Regions from separate parts of the Homo sapiens genome. Here region 1 is linked to region 2. A link means that fine-mapping ties the variant in region 2 to the expression of a gene that starts in the linked region. Tissue or cell type: monocytes. Region 2 holds a variant in brackets; the other region holds the start of a gene. All regions are shown on one strand. Distances are from middle to middle.

Region 1 (8,270 bases), 160 kb after region 2:
ACCTGCCTCATATCAGTCAACCCTCTGACCTCCCGAGGAGAAGACCACCTGGCTGCCCTCTCCTACTAACCACTTCCAGCCTTCTACCACAACTCCCTGCCTTGCATCTCCAACCCACAGCCACCATTCCTCTTGGTTACACACAATACCACTAATCTTTACATATACTTTACTAAATTATCAGTTCATAATCTCCAACAACATAACCGCCCTACACTAATGTTTAATTCACTGGTTAAATGATCACATTCCCCTTGCAGTCAATATCTCCACCACTCACACTACACCTGGCTTCTGTTTTTTAAAATGACGTAAGGCACCAGCACCATGAGAGGAAGAGTCATACATTCGTTTAATCTACGTGCTGCCTCAAGCACCCATTTTTAGGGCTGACATACGCTGTTGGAAACCCAGCCATACCCCGCCACCTTTGGCCTAGAGGAAACGTTTCCTCCTCGTGTGGCTGTGTGTGACATGGCCAGTGTGTTCCTCATCTCATTAATCCAGAACACAACACCTCCCACAGCTGCTGCTCACAATAAAACCTAATGGCCAACGCCAGAGTCATGCTAATAAGTTGCCCCCTTCACACATTTTTTTAAAACTAGCCAATCCACAACCCCCTCAGGAAAGCCTAAGGGATAATGCCCATAGAACTTAATAAAGGCACAGCCAGCAGGTTCTCTCTATCTCTCCCTGTCTGTCTGTCTGTCTGTCTGTCTCTCTCTCATTCCCTCCTCTCCCAGCTGTTTGAGCTCCCTGCAATCTCTAGACTTCCTCTTCAGCCTCCCGTTGGCACCGCTAACCTCTCCTGGATCTGTAAGTAACATATTTCTTCTATTTCATGCATTTTACATTCACCTCCTCATTGCGTCTCACCTGAACCACACACCCAAACCTAACTTTTCCCAATCAGGGCTCTCCTAGAGTGGCTGTCTTGGCTTATGGCCACTCTTGACAGACCTCAAGACCAAATTAGAAAGAACCCATAACCATAAGAATCACAACACCCTGTCCTCCCTCATCTCTCCAGTGCACACATTCCAACCAGACTCAACACTCCCTATTGAATTTGCCCAACTTTTGCCACCTCTGTGCCCCTATGCAAGTGACTCCCCTGCCTAGGATGCTCTCCCTCCTTCCCTATCAAGCACGCACTACAATCAGATCCATCAGATGGGCCATCAGTGATCATCTCAAGTGACACCTCGTCCATAAAGACTTTCCTAGTCCTTCCAACTAGAAATAATCCCATCCGTCTCCTAAATCCCATCACATTAGATTTCGTTTGTCTCTTCTTTGCTTCTACCTTGCAGCGTCAACTCCAGAGTGTCTCTGGGACCCTCTGAGCTGCAGTCTGACTGGAAGAAAAGGCCAGAGACTGGCCTTAGGTAGCATTTGCACAAGTGCTGTGTTTTATTAGAATTCTACGCGGAGGGTTGCTGATGAGGACAGATAATGGAGCTGCTATGCAATGCCCCCTCAACCCTAGCCACCGAGGCCTATTTACTCCTTCTTTCTCCCACTAGACTGCAAGCGTCTAAGGACAGGGGCTGTGTGCCTCAGGTCAGCACCCTCGGCAGCGTCGAGCCCAGTGCGTGACATGGAGGAAGTGCTTGCCACAAATGCCTCTGGGAGGCATCCCTGCTGGAAGGAAACACAGCTTCTTCTGGTCTGTGCAGAACAAGTAAGTCCTAGCACCTACTCCCGGTTCTTGGCTCACTAAAGCCAAGGGTGGGAGTCAGTCAGTCCTTCCTCAGTAGGTTCCGAGGACAGTTGCTGACTTGCTCTTTCTTTAAGGTGCCTTTTACTTTTGAACCTGAATTTTTCTAGAAAAATGTAATAGGCAGGGCACCCAATCCAAAGGGATGGCCCCCAGTGGCAACCCTGAGTAAAGTAAGGCCAATTCACTGTCACATTGCTTGGTCAATTTCACTATGAATCCACGCTCCGAGGACGCACTCTTGCCCAGTAGGCACCACCCCTCACTGGCAACAGAGAGACAGCAAATTGCTCCGCACCCCAGTAGCACAGGCTTTCCCTGCGCCGGGTGTGGTGCATCCCAGGAGAGCTTTCTCACACCAGGTGGCATCCAGGTGGATCTGGCGACCGCCCAGCAAGCATGTATCCCCTCTCACAAAAGGGAAGAAAAGGAAGAGTGGCCAAGAAGGGGTGGAAACCCCAGTTTTCCTCTATAAATGTGACGCCGGATTTTAACCTCTCCCTCGGCAAATCTACATATCAGACAAAAAAGAAACTAATATAGATATTAGTCTTGTACTGACTTAGACTTTCACTTACCCCGCCCCTTGTTTCTTAATGGCCTTTTTTCTTTTTTTTAAACTCTTGTACCTAGGTTAGCCTGTTTCCTGTTCATATTAAGGAATCCAGGCCCTTTGCAGTAAAGAAAGCCAAGGATACCCTGGAGCTTTATATTAGGAATGTTTCTAGATTGTTGGTTGAAAGCATGTCCATTTCTTAATTTGCACCCTAAACACACTTCACGGCTTCATTTAAATCTGAGCACTCTGTGTATTCCAACTGCCTATGCAGGGTTCTAACTTAACCAAGTACTTAACGAGTAGCATTAATATTCGTTGTCTTCTCCACGGGTGCCTGCACTCATCAAGGTAAATAGTTACCGGCTACCTCCACGGCCCTTGATTGAGCTGAGAATTGTCTGTCCTTATCTAGACAGTGGATTGTTTGTCCCCCACCATGGGAAAACCCTGCTGGTTACTTTCCAAAGGCCTCATTTTAAAAAGACACGTTTCCACTTACAGACCTTTTAAAAATGCCAGGCAATTTGGAAGAACAGTAAGAAATCTACTATCTGCGTGACAGTCATTCAGAGATTCTTGTAGTGTGCCAGGCACCATATTAAGTGCTAGGAATGCAATGATGACTCCAAGGAGTCCTGGTTCCTGCCCTCATGATGCTTATGGTACGGTGGGAGAGGCCAACATGTAGGGAAAGGTCACTCTAATGAGCGCCTAATTACCGAGTGAGCTCAGTGTTAGGAAGGAAAGGCACGGATGTGAGGACTCCCTAGAGGGTGGGGAAGATGTTGGAGCTGAGCTATGAAAGATGAAGAAATTGGTTATTCACTGAATGTCAGGGCACAGAATGTCAGGGCAGGAAGACCACACACACACACACACACACACACACACACACACACACACACACCCTACTATTCATAGATGAGGAAACTGAGGCCCAGCAGAGCTAGATGACTTGCCGAAGGTCAGAGCTAATTCTAGAAACCCATCCCCAATCCCTTCCTGCTAAACCACTTAATTTTATTTATATCCCAGCTATAGATTATACAAATACACTTGACAAATAAAACGGAGAATATTGAGTTAAAACCACATCTCTGAAGACCACACGCATAAATAACGATCGTGTTTTAATGCGGACGATACCTTTTCATTTTGCAAATCCAGAGTTCTCATCATATCAAAATTCAAGACAGTTTGTTCTGTAAGAAGGGGAAGGTCATAACCCTGTCTAGAATGTACTGGCAAATCTCTCTAACCGTGCAGTGCTAATTTGGGCCTGAGCTGTGTAACCAGACCGACTTCACGCTCCAGCTGGGGTTTCAGATCCACACATGGCGATTGGGTGGCTCTTTGCTGTTTCACAGCAAGGGTCCTTCCCTGGGCTCCCGGAGCCTCTGGGGATTTACTGCTCCCGACGTGGCCGTGTTCAAGCCACTGTGTGCATGCGCTTAATGTTGAAAACATTCTTTTGAAAAGCCCAGGAGATTCCACTCGCAATCTGTGCGTGTGCATGTAAAAGCGCAGAGACTGGAAAGAACCGCGGCAGAGCACACCCTGACCGAAGGTTACCGCGGGGGAGCCGCGGCCGTGGGAGAGCCGCGGCCGTGGGAGGGAGTGCGATACGGTCTTTTCACTCTAGACACTCCTGAGTTATGTACAATTCTACGCAAGAATGTATGCGTGTGTTAGCATGTAATACATATGTATTAGTTTTTTCAGGAAGATTCTTAAACAACAACAAAATCTCTATAGAACAAAGGTGCGTCTCCGCAGAGCGCAACAGCATTTGTCTTGGATGTAACCGCCTTCTCCAGAAATCTCAGAGGAACTCCCCTCGACCACCGCCTAACTGAAGGACACCGTGCGCTCCACCGCAACCCTGCGGGCGATTCGGAAAGTTGGAGGCGCCCCGGGGAGTCGCCGCACTTGCCGCCCGCGCCCCCTAACCTGAGCATTCAAGGAGTCTTGACTTGGCCGCTGGCGCACTCCGCACCCACCCAGCCGGTGCTGATGCGGGAGGGTGGGGCCGCGGCGGGGCGGGGCAACGCGAGCCCGCACCCCGCTCCTCCCCGCCCCTCCCTGCCGGCCCCGCCCGCGCGCGCCCCCCGCCCGCGGCCCGGGCGCCCGGCCCGCCCCCTCCCCTCGGCGCGCAAACGAACCTCGCGACGCCGCGCTCGGCGGCGGGCGGGGGCCGGGCGAGGGAGGGGGCTGGTCCCGGCCGCCCCACTCTGCAGTTGTCTCCCGAGCGCTGGCTGCGCCGCCCGAGCCGCTGGGCCGGGGAAGCACTGGCCGTTCGCTCCCGGGCCGGCTCCGCCAGGCGCTCGCAGGCATGCAGCCCGGGAGCAGGAGGCGCTCCCCGGGCCGCTGCTGAGCCGGCCGGGGCGGCGGGGACCAGCGCCAGCGGAGCCCCTCCCACCTTGCCCCGGGGCAGACGAGCGGCGCCCCGACACCCCCTCTTCTCCCGCAGCCCCGCCAGCGCCACCCCCCGCGGGCCGCAGGGGCTCATGCAGCCGCCAAGGTAAGCGCGGGTCGGGAGCCGGGCAGACCCGGCTCTGACATCTCCGAGGCGCCGCCGACACATGCCGGGGCCACGGCGCTGCTTTGGTCTTCCTTAGCCCCGCGTCTCATCTTGCTCCCATCTTGCCCACATTTGGAGCTTTGCTGCGCCTCTATCGCTTTAGCTGTTGGCAGCAGGAAAGTTTTTGTGGTTTGGTGTTTGTTCTTTTTTCCTAAAATACTCTCCCCCGGGCAGCCGCCAGCGCGCGTGGTTGGGCAGACCCGGCACACGTCCCTTACACCGTGTGCGGGCTGGGAGCTCCTTCCCTCAGCCCGGCTCGCGGAGCCCCGGACGGAGCCGGCCACCCGACTGTCCCGCCGTGAACCCCCATTGGCCCGCGCCGCCCGGGCCCCCGCCTCCCGCTCGACGCCCGGCTGCGGAGCTGCCTGGCCATCTCCTGCCCTCGGGGATGTCGGCGCAGTGCACCGCGTGGGCTCGCGTCCCGGCGGCCCTTTGCCTCGGCGCGCCGGCGTACGGGAAGGTGCGGACCTTGGATTGAGGGCCGAGGATGCCCATTGCCAAGCCGCCCCGGCTTTCCTAAGTGGACGGGAGGGCACGGCGACGATTCAGCGCCGGCTCGCGCCGCAGCTCAACCCAGGGTACAAGCCCGGGCATGGGGGACAGGTGTATTCAATGGGAGGGCGGGTGTGGGGGACGCTCGGGTGCAATTCGGGATTGCGTCTTATTAATGTAATTGTATTAGACTTGCTCGGAGGTAGAATCAGTTCTCCCAAATTGAGATTTCTAATGGGAGCCTGTGAGCTGCTATTATGTGGTGTGGTTTTGGGAGGTGTTGGGTTGTATTTATTTTATAAATTGGGTGTCTCGCGGGCGGAGTAGGGGAAGTAGCGCCATCTAGCGGAAGTGGTGAGCTGTGCATTCCTCTTAGGCTGCGAAGTTGTTGGGTGTTCTCAAAGTAGTCTCCCGCACAAGGTGGAGAGGCGGGAACCAGCCCTCGCCTCCAGGAAGGAGGCTACAGAAGCTCTCTGAGTATCGACGGTACCAGGGAGAACCCCGACCTCCCATGCTCAGCACATTGAGCTCAGGGGACGAAATTGCGGGTCGTGTTGAGTGGCATGCTGTCACCTAAAGGAGCTCCATCACCTTCTCTGTTTGGTTTTAGACTCTTCCAGCAAAAACGTAATATAAAATGTTAACTGCTGTAAGAAGATGCCCCTTCCGCAGGTATCTGGTGCAGAGATCTTGAAAACCAATGCACAAACCTCTGTCTTCTCCTGTGCATCACAAACGGGTGATTTCTTGGGTGGATTTTGAGCCATGACCCCTAGAAAAGAGAGTAACTGTGCTCCGAAGGGCAACAGGAGGAGAACTGGGAGAGGGCCTCCTGCCCATTTGTGCAGGAACAGAATAGTGTACCCAAACTGGGTTTTGTGGTTTTTTTTTTTTTTTTTTTTGCACATACAAAGAAGGGGTTTCTTGCTGTTACCACAGCAAGTGACAAGCAAGCCCCCTTTACAGGGACATGATCTCCAATTAACAACTGGGGCAGACGTGGCTGGATGGCAAGTTCTGCAGACAAAGGCTCTGGGTGGGGCACCCACACATCCAGGCGGGCTCCACGTTCTCTGTGGCTGGTTTTTGCTGCCACCTTCCAGGCCAGATAATATATTAGCAGTGAGCTGGGCTCACCCGGTTCTGAAGGGCACCCTGGCCCCTTGTAGAGCAGTGTAGTGGTCTACTGTAGTACCCCCTTGAGACTCTCTGGGCTGTGCTGGTAGTGAAAGAGGTCTTAGCCTCCTTTTTTCAAGTACCCTGCTTCCATTATTTCCCTCCCAGGTGTCAGACAGTTGCTTACATTCTCCAATAGACATATGAAATGGTGGGTGGCTGGTCTGCCCCGTCATGCTGTCTCAAACTGTGTCTCCATTGGTAGGTATTTATGTCATCATGAGACTTGTGACAGACGAGGTCTTAGAATAGCTTGGCATCTCATTCAAGGAGGGCACCTTTGACTTTTGCTAAGAAACCTCTGCCTGCTTTCTCTTTTTACAAACCTCCTCCAAGGAATAACTTGCTGCTTCCCAGTGTATGTAATAATAGACAATAAAGGCACAAGAATCTCCTTTTTAATACAATCCCTTGCTCTTCAGCAGCCCTGTGAGAAGCCAAGCCCAAGAATTCTTAGACGAGCAGTTGCAAAATGAAATAAATAGGGACTGAGCATCCCTGACACTGGGACAGGGAGTTTTTCAGCCATTCTTCCAGGGATGCTTGCTGCTCCCAGGAAGCAGGCAGGAATGGGTGCTGGTATTTTCAGTTTCTCAGAAGAAACTGATGGCCAGAAAGCAGAAGGGATATGGCCAGTGTTCTGTGAGTCTAAAGTGCGTTTTTCCCCCTACAACCTTGCTACCAAATGAATTAAGTTCTAGCGCTTGTTTTTACCAAGTATGGTTGCAAAATTTGTTCCTGCCTTGAAGCATGCAGTATAGACATGAAAGAAGGCACGGTCACCGATCCATCAAGAAGCCTGCCATCCAGGGAAAGAGGCAGGAAGTATCCAAGTGCAATTGAGCAAAAACATAGAAGGATTATCTGAAAGCAGCGCAGGCAAATTGGAATCTGTTAGTTCTGTGAAACGAAATGACACTACTCCTTACAGGTAATTATTCTAGAACTTGACTTATAACATCCCAAAGGTAAGTTTAGTTAACTTTTAAGTGTCTGTGGTGTTCCTGTGGCTCTTTTAGGGAATGGCTTTGCTTCCATTATGTAGCCATTCCACAAACTTAACTGAACATAAATTTAACCTGAAGAAGGGAAGCTCCAGGTTTCCCCACCTGTTTGGTATCCAGCCTATCCAAAAGACAGGCTCCTCTTTTTCTTATTTTGAGCAAATGACTGCTCAGTTTCAGCCTCTCTTCTCTTAGCAACAGAGCTATAAAGGAGCAATGAATAGGGCAGTGGAAAAAATTAAGGATTGCCTTACCCAAGTATGCATACAAGGCCAGGCAGAAGTCAGTTTCCTTGGTGACAGATGAACAAATGAACTCTATTGAAAGGATACCCAGTTTCTTAGCCAGGTCCGTCCTGTGAGTAGAAGTGCTGTATCATGTTAGAACCCAGGGGTCAGGAGGCAAGAATGCCTAGTGAGGTGTGAAACTTTACAATTCTTAGGGCAGGAAGAAGAAGGAATTTTAAAAGTAGGGCAGAAATTGACAAAATAAATGCAAATGTCTTTTATAACCTCATATAAAAAGTTTTAAGTCACTGGTAACTGACTAACATAAAAATGTACTATGTACCTACCCAACTTACGAAATGATTATATCCAGATTACCACAGTAAATAATGGAAGTGTAGCAAACAGTTTATGCAGAGAGTGACTACAGAATTGCTGGTTGGATTTACTTTTCTCATTTTTCAGTTGCTTGTTTAAAGCAGTGCTATGAGGTGAAGAACTTTCAGAA
Region 2 (8,270 bases):
ACCACTGGACCACTGTGTATGTAAGCTTCCTGCTAATAAAACCCCATGTCTCATTTGAGGACTCTGGGTCTCTTCCTCATCCTCCTGAACCTAATGCCTTCCCTACCGAAGTTAATAGGAGCCCAGCACAACAGAGACTAGCCCCCGGATCATTTTGACAGGGTAAATGGGAGGTATATTAATTTGCTAGGGCTGCCATAACAAATACCACAAACTGGAGGACTTAAACAACAGAAATGCATCTTCTCCCAGTCCTGGAGGCCAGAAGCCCAACATCAAGGTGTCCAAAGAGTTGGTTCCTGCTGGAGGTTCTGAGGCAGAGCCCGTTCCAGGCCTCTCTCCTAGCTCCTGGAGGCGCTGACAATCCCGATCCTCCGTGTTCTTTCCCTTCCAGTTATTTCATTCCAGTCTCTGCCTCTCCTTCCTTCTCTGTGTCTTCTCATGGTAACACCAGTCCTTGAACTTAGGACCCCCCCTAATCCAGGATGACCTCATCCTAGCTATATCCACAAAGACTCTTATTTCCAAATAAAGTCACATGCTGAGCTTCCGAGTAGACATGAATTGGGGTGGGGAGGGAGGCATTATTCAACCCGGTATAGGTGGTGAACCAGAAGAAAAATTGAGTATGGATACCAGAAAAAAGAAAGTATGGATGCTTGGCAGGCAAAATATAAAGCCAACAGATGTCCACAATACCACATAAGTCACCCATCATCAAACTGTCAAAATCGAAGAGATCTTAAGCAAATCTGTTGTCCCGCTACCTAGTAACAACTGTGTCTAGTTAACTCCACAAGGAAAATCCCACAGGGGACGCAGTTCCACAGCAACCAGGAATCTCTCTTCGATGGGAGTGTTTTTTAGAAGCTGAGCTAAATTTGTAACTGGAATTCTCTTCAAGTTAACTTACCGCCTGCCCCCTGTGCTGACTTCACATATGTCCAAAATACTGAGAGCTCTAGCCCTCCAGGGAATTCGACTTCCGGCCCACAGAGTGTAGCCACATCTAAAAATGTCAGGATGCTTCGTGAAGGCAAAGTCAACTATTTCTGCATCTCCATCCTCAGGAAACCTATCCTCCTACTTGGCTCAATGGGCCTGTCTTCTCAGAATTATCATCACTAAGACAGTTAGAGATTTTACTTTTTTTTTTTCTCACTTGTAGAAGAAAATTCAAATTTCAGTTTCTTGTGGGGAAAAAAATGTAGAAGAATATAAGCCAAACTCTTACCAGCGGTTATCTCTGGAAGGTGAAAAAAAGAGAGTTCCAATGGAGTATAAGTTATGTTTGAAATAAGAAAAATACATACAGACACTTTTAAATTAAAAATAGCTGCTATTAGTTCTGTTAAACCCATTAACGGACTTTATGCTGTAGTGCTAACAGCCATTGACATGATACACAAGTAGCAAAATTTCTCCCCTAACAATGACAAAAACAAAATCTAAGCACAACAAAAGCAGTGAAAACAGAAAAGTCCATGTGAAAAAAATCCAAGGCAAACGACATTTATCATTTCAATTTCCTTAAAGGAGCAATGATTTTCCATTTGATGTAGTGATAATTCCTGGGGACCTGAGACCTTGGACAAGGGTTAAGAGTCCAAGGGGTGAGTCACACTTCCCAGCTGTGTGACCCTAGGCAAGTCACTTTGCCCCTATGGGCTCAGCTTCCTCATTTTCTAAAAATATCCCCACGAACTCATTTATATAGTCATTGTAACAATCAAATTGATCCACCTATGGGAAGGAGCTTTGAAAACATGATAAACATTATATGGGATTATTAAAAAAATTCTTAATTATTTAAGCATATGTGGCATCCTTCCAGACCCCAATAAAGTACATAAACAAAGGTAGTCCTTTCCCTCAAAATGATGGCTTTTGTTTAACCTCAGTGCCAAAGGCTAAAATCTTCATACTCCTCAGTCTGAGAGCTGTAACCATGCAAGGTTTTACTCTTATTATTTATTTATTGTCTTCAAGCTCCATCCCCTCACTCCCTTTCCCCTCCCCAGATTCAAGCTCCATCCCCTCACTCCCTTTCCCCTCCCCCTGCCTCTGGGCAACCTTCATTCTCTTTAATAGAGTGCTTTTTGCACATATTCCTTAAAAGCTGTATATATTTGTATGGGTGTATCTCTAATCTATGTAAATGGCATAGATAATTCATTTTGCTTCCTAGAGTTCTCACTAACACTGCGTTGTTGAGATCCAGCGATGTCGCTGTTGGCTGGCTGATCTGTTTCCTGTAATTGATGCGTCAAACTTCATGTGCATCCACAGCACTTTGTCAGCCTCATCTCTTAGCTGAGAGAGAATTCCATACTTCTACAAATGACACAGCAAAGAACATCTTTGTTCGAGGATCCGGGTTGATGTAGCCTCTTTGGGTAGGCAATACTCAATTCGCATGCTCTCCAATCCAGTCTCCTCGTAGCAGTGAGGGGAGGCTCCTGGATCTCCCACCACACTTGGCACTATCCAGCTTTCTAATAAAGATATAGTCTAACAGATGTAAAGTGGTAGCTTGTGGCTGTTTAATTTTCATCTGATTACTAAGATATTAAGCACCTCATCATGTGTTTATTATTTGAGATGGGAGGTTTTTCTGCTAAAAATTGCCTCATTCTATCCTTTTCCCATTTTGTTAGAAGTTGCCATCTTTTTTTCCTGTGGATTTGAGGATTTTCCTGAGTAAAGACCTTCTCCCATTTCTGTCATCTATTATAAACTCTGTCCAGGGACTGGACCAGAAATCCTTAATATCAATGTAAGCAAATCCACCTCTTTTCTGCCTTATGGTTTGGCTCTTCCTATTAGCACCACCTAGTAAGCAAAACTCGCCTTGTGGCTTAAGCTCTCCTGTTGCCCTAAAGATGGAATGCAAGCACCTCACACTGATACACAGGGCCCTTTTAATCCCAACCTTGCCTGCCTCTTTTCTGTTACCAAAGTCCACTCTTCCATCCACAACTCTGCCTTGCATGTACTGTCGCTGTTCTCACTTTTTTTTTTTTTTTGAGATGGAGTCTCGCTCTGTTGTCCAGGCTGGAGTGCAGTGGCGCGATCTCGGCTCACTGCAAGCTCCGCCTCCCGGGTCCACGCCATTCTCCTGCCTCAGCCTTCCCAGTAGCTGGGACTACAGGCACCCGCCACCACGCCCGGCTAATTTTTTGTATTTTTAGTAGAGACGGGGTTTCACTGTGTTAGCCAGGATGGTCTTGATCTCCTGACCTCGTGATCTGCCTGCCTTGGCCTCCCAAAGTGCTGGGATTACAGGCGTGAGCCACCACACCCGGCCCTCTCACTTTTAAGATTCCCTTGTTTCTCTTCTTCAGCCTGTAAATGTGAAGATTCTTTCAAGTGTCACTTCGCTTGTGAGTATTTGGGGTGTCTTTTTTTTTTTTCTTAGAGTCTTGCTCTGTCACCCAGGCTGGAGTGTAGTGGCTCGATCTTGGCTCACTGCAACCTCCGCCTCCTGGGTTCAAGCGATTCTCCTGCCTCAGCCTCCCAAGTAACTGGGATTCCAGGTGCACACCACTATACCCGGCTAATTTTTGTATTTTTAGTAGAGACGGGGTTTCACCATGTTGGCCAGGCTGGCCTTGAACTCCTGACCTCAGGTGATCCACCAGCCTTGGCCTCCCAAAGTGCTGGGATTACAGGCATGAGCCACCGTGCCCGGCTTGGGGTGTCTTTTCAACTCAGTACAGCATTGATATTTGCACATTTAACCAATGTGGTTTCTACTTTGGGAAATAAATCCTCATGGCCCAGAACATGTTACTGTTATTATATCACTAAGTAGTGCCTAGTTAGAAGAAGAGATACTCACCTGTTCATGTTACAGGTGCAGAAGCTAAGCCTTCATCAATGCCAGTGCCAGACACACATTAAAGGCGGCAAAACATTTTGTTCAGTCTACTGCCTTAGAGGAAAGAGACTCCAATATAACTGAGCTCAAATCCAGCTAGGACAAAGGTATGGAGGTTTCTAAAGGGAGAACAGAGAGGGAACTAAAAGGGATTATGGGGAAGTGAAAGGAGGGAATAAAAAAAAAACAGACTAGAGGGGCTATGGGGAAATGGAAAATTACATAAAGGGGGATGGGTGGAAAATTACTAAAAATTATTTGGCAAGACAACAGTATCTGTTGGGCAATAGAGATTCTGCAGCTTGACAGCATTG[C/T]AATTTTTTGAGCCCAAACGCAGCACCAGGCTGGGGTCAGTAGCCCTCAGAATCACGGCGAGTGCAGGTGGAAGCCAGGATAAAGTTAAGACAAGCCTCCCAGTGTGGCGTTCAGGCAACTGCTTTGTGCCACGTGGGACATGCTTAGGTAACCTGCATGTGGCTGAACGATCGACCGGTGTCAAAGCCTAGGTTTAAACACAAGTCGGCCTGACCACAATGTCTGAAGTCAACCCCCGTGTTACTTAGGTCGGCATTTGTAATGTTGCTGAGGTGTGGCGTGAGCCCCATGGAAGGCTTGTGAGCGGGAGGGAGTCATTTCACTAGTGAGGCTGCCCCACCGCCCTCAGCTTCATGGTTACCTCTGGTCCTGAGGTAACAGGAAGTCTTGTGAAGAAGAGCACTTTGTAGAAATTTGCCAGTTGAGACTCCAAAAAAACAGCCTGGTGAAATAGGTGAGTGATTACTTTGAGATGGAAGAATATGCAAGAACTACTTGCTTCTTGATGGGAATGTAATTTAGGAAAAAGGCAAAACATTCATTTCACAAACATGGAAACTTTCGTAAGTTTCTGGAAGTTTCTAGAAGTCCTCTCAACCTTCACTGAGATACAGTGAACTCTTTGAATGGGTTTTGGCAAAAAAGAAAGAAAAGCAAGTGTCATTGTTTCCATATGAACATCAGCCGTGAGACACTCCATTGTAAGGCACACTTTCAGCAAAAAGAGACATTAGCAACACTCCTCTCTGTGGCAGAGAACAACAGGTTGTAAAACTTAAGTCCCCCTCAGAGTCTAATTTAGATAATTATAGTTTGCCTCCTAGGACTCTCCCTGAGGATCCAGCTGGCTTTGGCTGTCATCATTACTGCTATTCTTCTAAATTACTGGGCAGGGCAGGATGACGAGGCTGCGCCTGACGCAGGGAGAGCCTAGGAGGAAAGGTGTTCCTCCATCAGCGGCTCGTCCCTGTCTGACAAAAACCATTATTTTGTACAGAGCACAACGCACCCACACTCGGTGTAACAGAAGCAGAAAAATCAGCAAGGGTTTTATGTGGTTTTTCCTGTCGCTCGGCCTTTCCAAAATGAGACAGACCTCCTGCACTCTCCTGGAACCTTACATGCTCCTTCGCAATAGACCTGATTCAGGAACACCAGCTGAGCTGACTCGGAAGCCACATCACATAGAAGCTAAGAACACCTTGTCAAAGCCCGACTGTGTGGGTTCCTATCCTGGTTCTGCCACTCTGGGGTGTGTGATGTGGACCAAACTCTTCTCCCTTCGTGTGCCAGAGAGTCCTCGTCTGTGACATGGGGATAATAGCAATGCCTTCCTCACGGGAGTCACGAGGAGCAACTGAATTCACCGCACACAGAGGAGAGCCTGGCCCCTTGCAAACACGCTCCACAGCGTCTGCTCCTACCAGTCCCTCAGAATCAGGTCATGAGTCTCTCTGAGCCGGGCTGCGGCCAGCGGTGTGCAGTTATCACAAATGACGACAGCAGCAGGTACACGTATGCTGCTGTGAACACAGGAGATGTTATGAAGAGTAGCAAGTCCCTGGGATGTGGAGAAAAGACTGGGCTGCAGGATCCAGAAAAGGACGTGTCCCATGCCTGTAAGAGTCTCAGGCCACATGCCTCCCCCTTTTATGCCTCCATTTCCCCATCTGAAAAATGTTCCAATTGAAATACATCATTTCTTAACTCTCACACTTCCATCCTAAGACTTCCATCCACTGCCTGGGCCTGGCTGAGATGTCCTTGCAGTCAGCTTTATAGTCATCCCAACGTGTGCTGTTGGTATCTAGGTTGGAAATAAATTGCCTGGAATAAAGACTTGATTGTGAAACCTAGGAAGGAGCCACTGAGAGACCTCCCAGAGTGTTGCTGAGATTCGAGACAGGACGGGGATGAAGGGAGTGGATTCCTCAGGCTGTCTGACAACAGACAGAGAGAGGAAAAGCATGTGCCAGAATGCTTTTCATAAATCAAGAGCAGAAGGGCCATTCAGAGACCCCCTCGGGGACCTGACATCATCCTTGCCATAACCCCAGGTGGCTGCAAAATACCGAGTCTTTTGGTCTCTTAGAGATAGACAGGCTGAGGGGCCACCCAAGAGCATGCTTCTGACCTATTTGTCCTCAGCGCTGGAAGACTCAATGCTGTTGTCTCTGCTGGCCCCCATGACAACCAGATTAGACAATCAATCTAACCGTCAGTGAAATCTACTCATTATTGGATTCTGCCCAGCCTTCCTTGGATGGGAGTTGCAGCCTGATAGCAAAAAGAAATGAACTAGACCTGAGAAGGACAGGGCCAAGGCCAAGATGAACCCAGGGAGCCGGCGTCCAAGTTGGAAGAGGAAGGTGTGCGTACTTTGAGTTCAAGGGCGGGCGTCCAAGGCTGCCCAGATTCCGCACGCATCTGCACCCTGCCTTTCAGTTAACACAGCGGAGAGAGTGAGGCAAACACCTCCAGACAGTACCCTCCAGCATAGAGAGGAGCCTCCTTACAATGGGAATGGGCAGCTCCGAGCCCCTGCTGTCCAGGGCAGGAGCTCTGGGTACAGAAGCCATCAAGACCTGCACAACCACAGAGAGAAGCCACCAGATCCCCACCGCCACCCCGCAGGCAGTGTGGGGGCTGCGCCTAGTGCTGCCTCAGCCGGATCTCCTCTGCCCCACTCGGCGCAAGAAGAGAACCCACAGGTGTGGGAGGAGAGGGCCGCAGACCCACCCCTCCCAACACCAGACTCAGCTCAGTGCCCTCTGGCACCTAGAAAAGTGCCCAGCATACACTGGCCATGCAGCAAATAGTGGCAAGGAAGGGCAGATTCCAACATCCTGGTCCTCTGCGTGGTCTTGGACAACAGGCTTTACCTCTCTGAGTCTCAGTCCCCGCTCTAAAAACTGTCATGATGATGATAATATCTGCCCGAGTGTAAGAAGAGACGGAATGGCAAATGCATGGAAAACCACTCAGGCGACTGGAAACACTCCACAAAGCAAAGGATTAAAGATTAGAAAACTGTCTCCTCCACATGCGAACCTGAGGACCTTAAGTTAAGGGAAATAAGCCAAGCACAGAAACACAAACACCGCGTGATCTCACTTACATGTGGAATCTAAAAAGCTGAAGGCATGAAAGTACAGCGCAGGATGGTGGTTACGAGGGGCTGCCGGGAGGGAGAGGTTTGGAGAGATGTTGGTTAAAGGGTACAAAATTTCTATTAGGAATAATAAAAATAAAATTTCTATTAGGAATAATAAAAATAAAATTTCTATTAGGAATAATAAAAATAAAATTTCTATTAGGAGCAAAAAGTTCAACAGTTCTATTGCACAACATGGTGACTATATTAATAACAACGTATTTTACTCCTGAAAATTGCTAAGAGAGTAGATATTAAGTCTCACCATAAAAATATGATGTGCATGTGAGGTAATGCCTATCTTAAGGGGCTCAGTGGAGCCACTCCACAATGTATACATATTTTAAAGCAACATGTATGCAATAAACATATACAATTTTTTGTCAACTAAAACATTTTTTAAAAAAGAAAATTATCTCCTCATTCCTCTCAAATATGCCCAGATAATATTCTGTGGCCAAACAAGTAAAATTCTGTTTCCTCACTTTCATCTCTTAAACTGACCACAATCTGGGCTCATCATCATCATTATTATTATTATTATTTTTGGAGACAGAATCTCACTCTGTTGCCCAGGCTGGAGTGCAGTGGCGCTATCTCGGTTCACTGCAACCTCTGCCTCTCAGGTTCAAGCAATTCTCGTGCCTCAGCCTCCTGAGTAGCTGGGATTACAAGTGCCCACAACTACACCTGACTAATTTGGCTAATTTTTTATATTTTAGTAGAGACAGGGTTTCACCATGTTGCCCAGGCTGGTCTCAAACTCCTGACCTCCGGTGATCCACCCACCTCAGCCTCCCAAAGGGTTGGGATTACAGGCGTTAGCCACTGCGCCTGGCCTGGGCTAATAATTAACATACACACATCTCAGACAAACACGCACTCAGACACACACACACACACACACACACACACACACAC

Direction of the effects. Alleles are on the strand shown, and positions count from the first base shown. SD is a standard deviation of normalised expression in the study named.
For the expression in monocytes of the gene that starts at base 4,511 in region 1, allele C in region 2 goes with a higher level than allele T (small effect, 0.39 SD a copy in Fairfax 2014).

Evidence for each region. PIP is the estimated chance that this variant, and not a neighbour inherited with it, causes the effect.
Region 1: RGMA starts here. The variant in region 2 is fine-mapped to the expression of RGMA in monocytes (TOPMed, PIP 0.99).

Annotation. Positions count from the first base shown.
Region 1 is chr15:93,085,452-93,093,721 of GRCh38, reverse strand. RGMA (repulsive guidance molecule BMP co-receptor a) reads left to right here and starts at 4,511. Exons shown (of 4, transcript NM_020211.3): 1 at 4,511-4,803. The coding sequence starts at 4,790. LOC101927025 (a long non-coding RNA gene) reads right to left here and starts at 4,508. Exons shown (of 5, transcript XR_007064769.1): 1 at 4,445-4,508.
Region 2 is chr15:93,243,783-93,252,052 of GRCh38, reverse strand. All of the region lies in intron 4 of LOC105370982 (a long non-coding RNA gene), which reads right to left. Among named protein-coding and RNA genes, the nearest start is that of RGMA, 160 kb to the right of the region's middle. RefSeq lists enhancers at 6,272-6,779, 6,780-7,289. The variant C/T (reference allele first, on the strand shown) is at 4,195.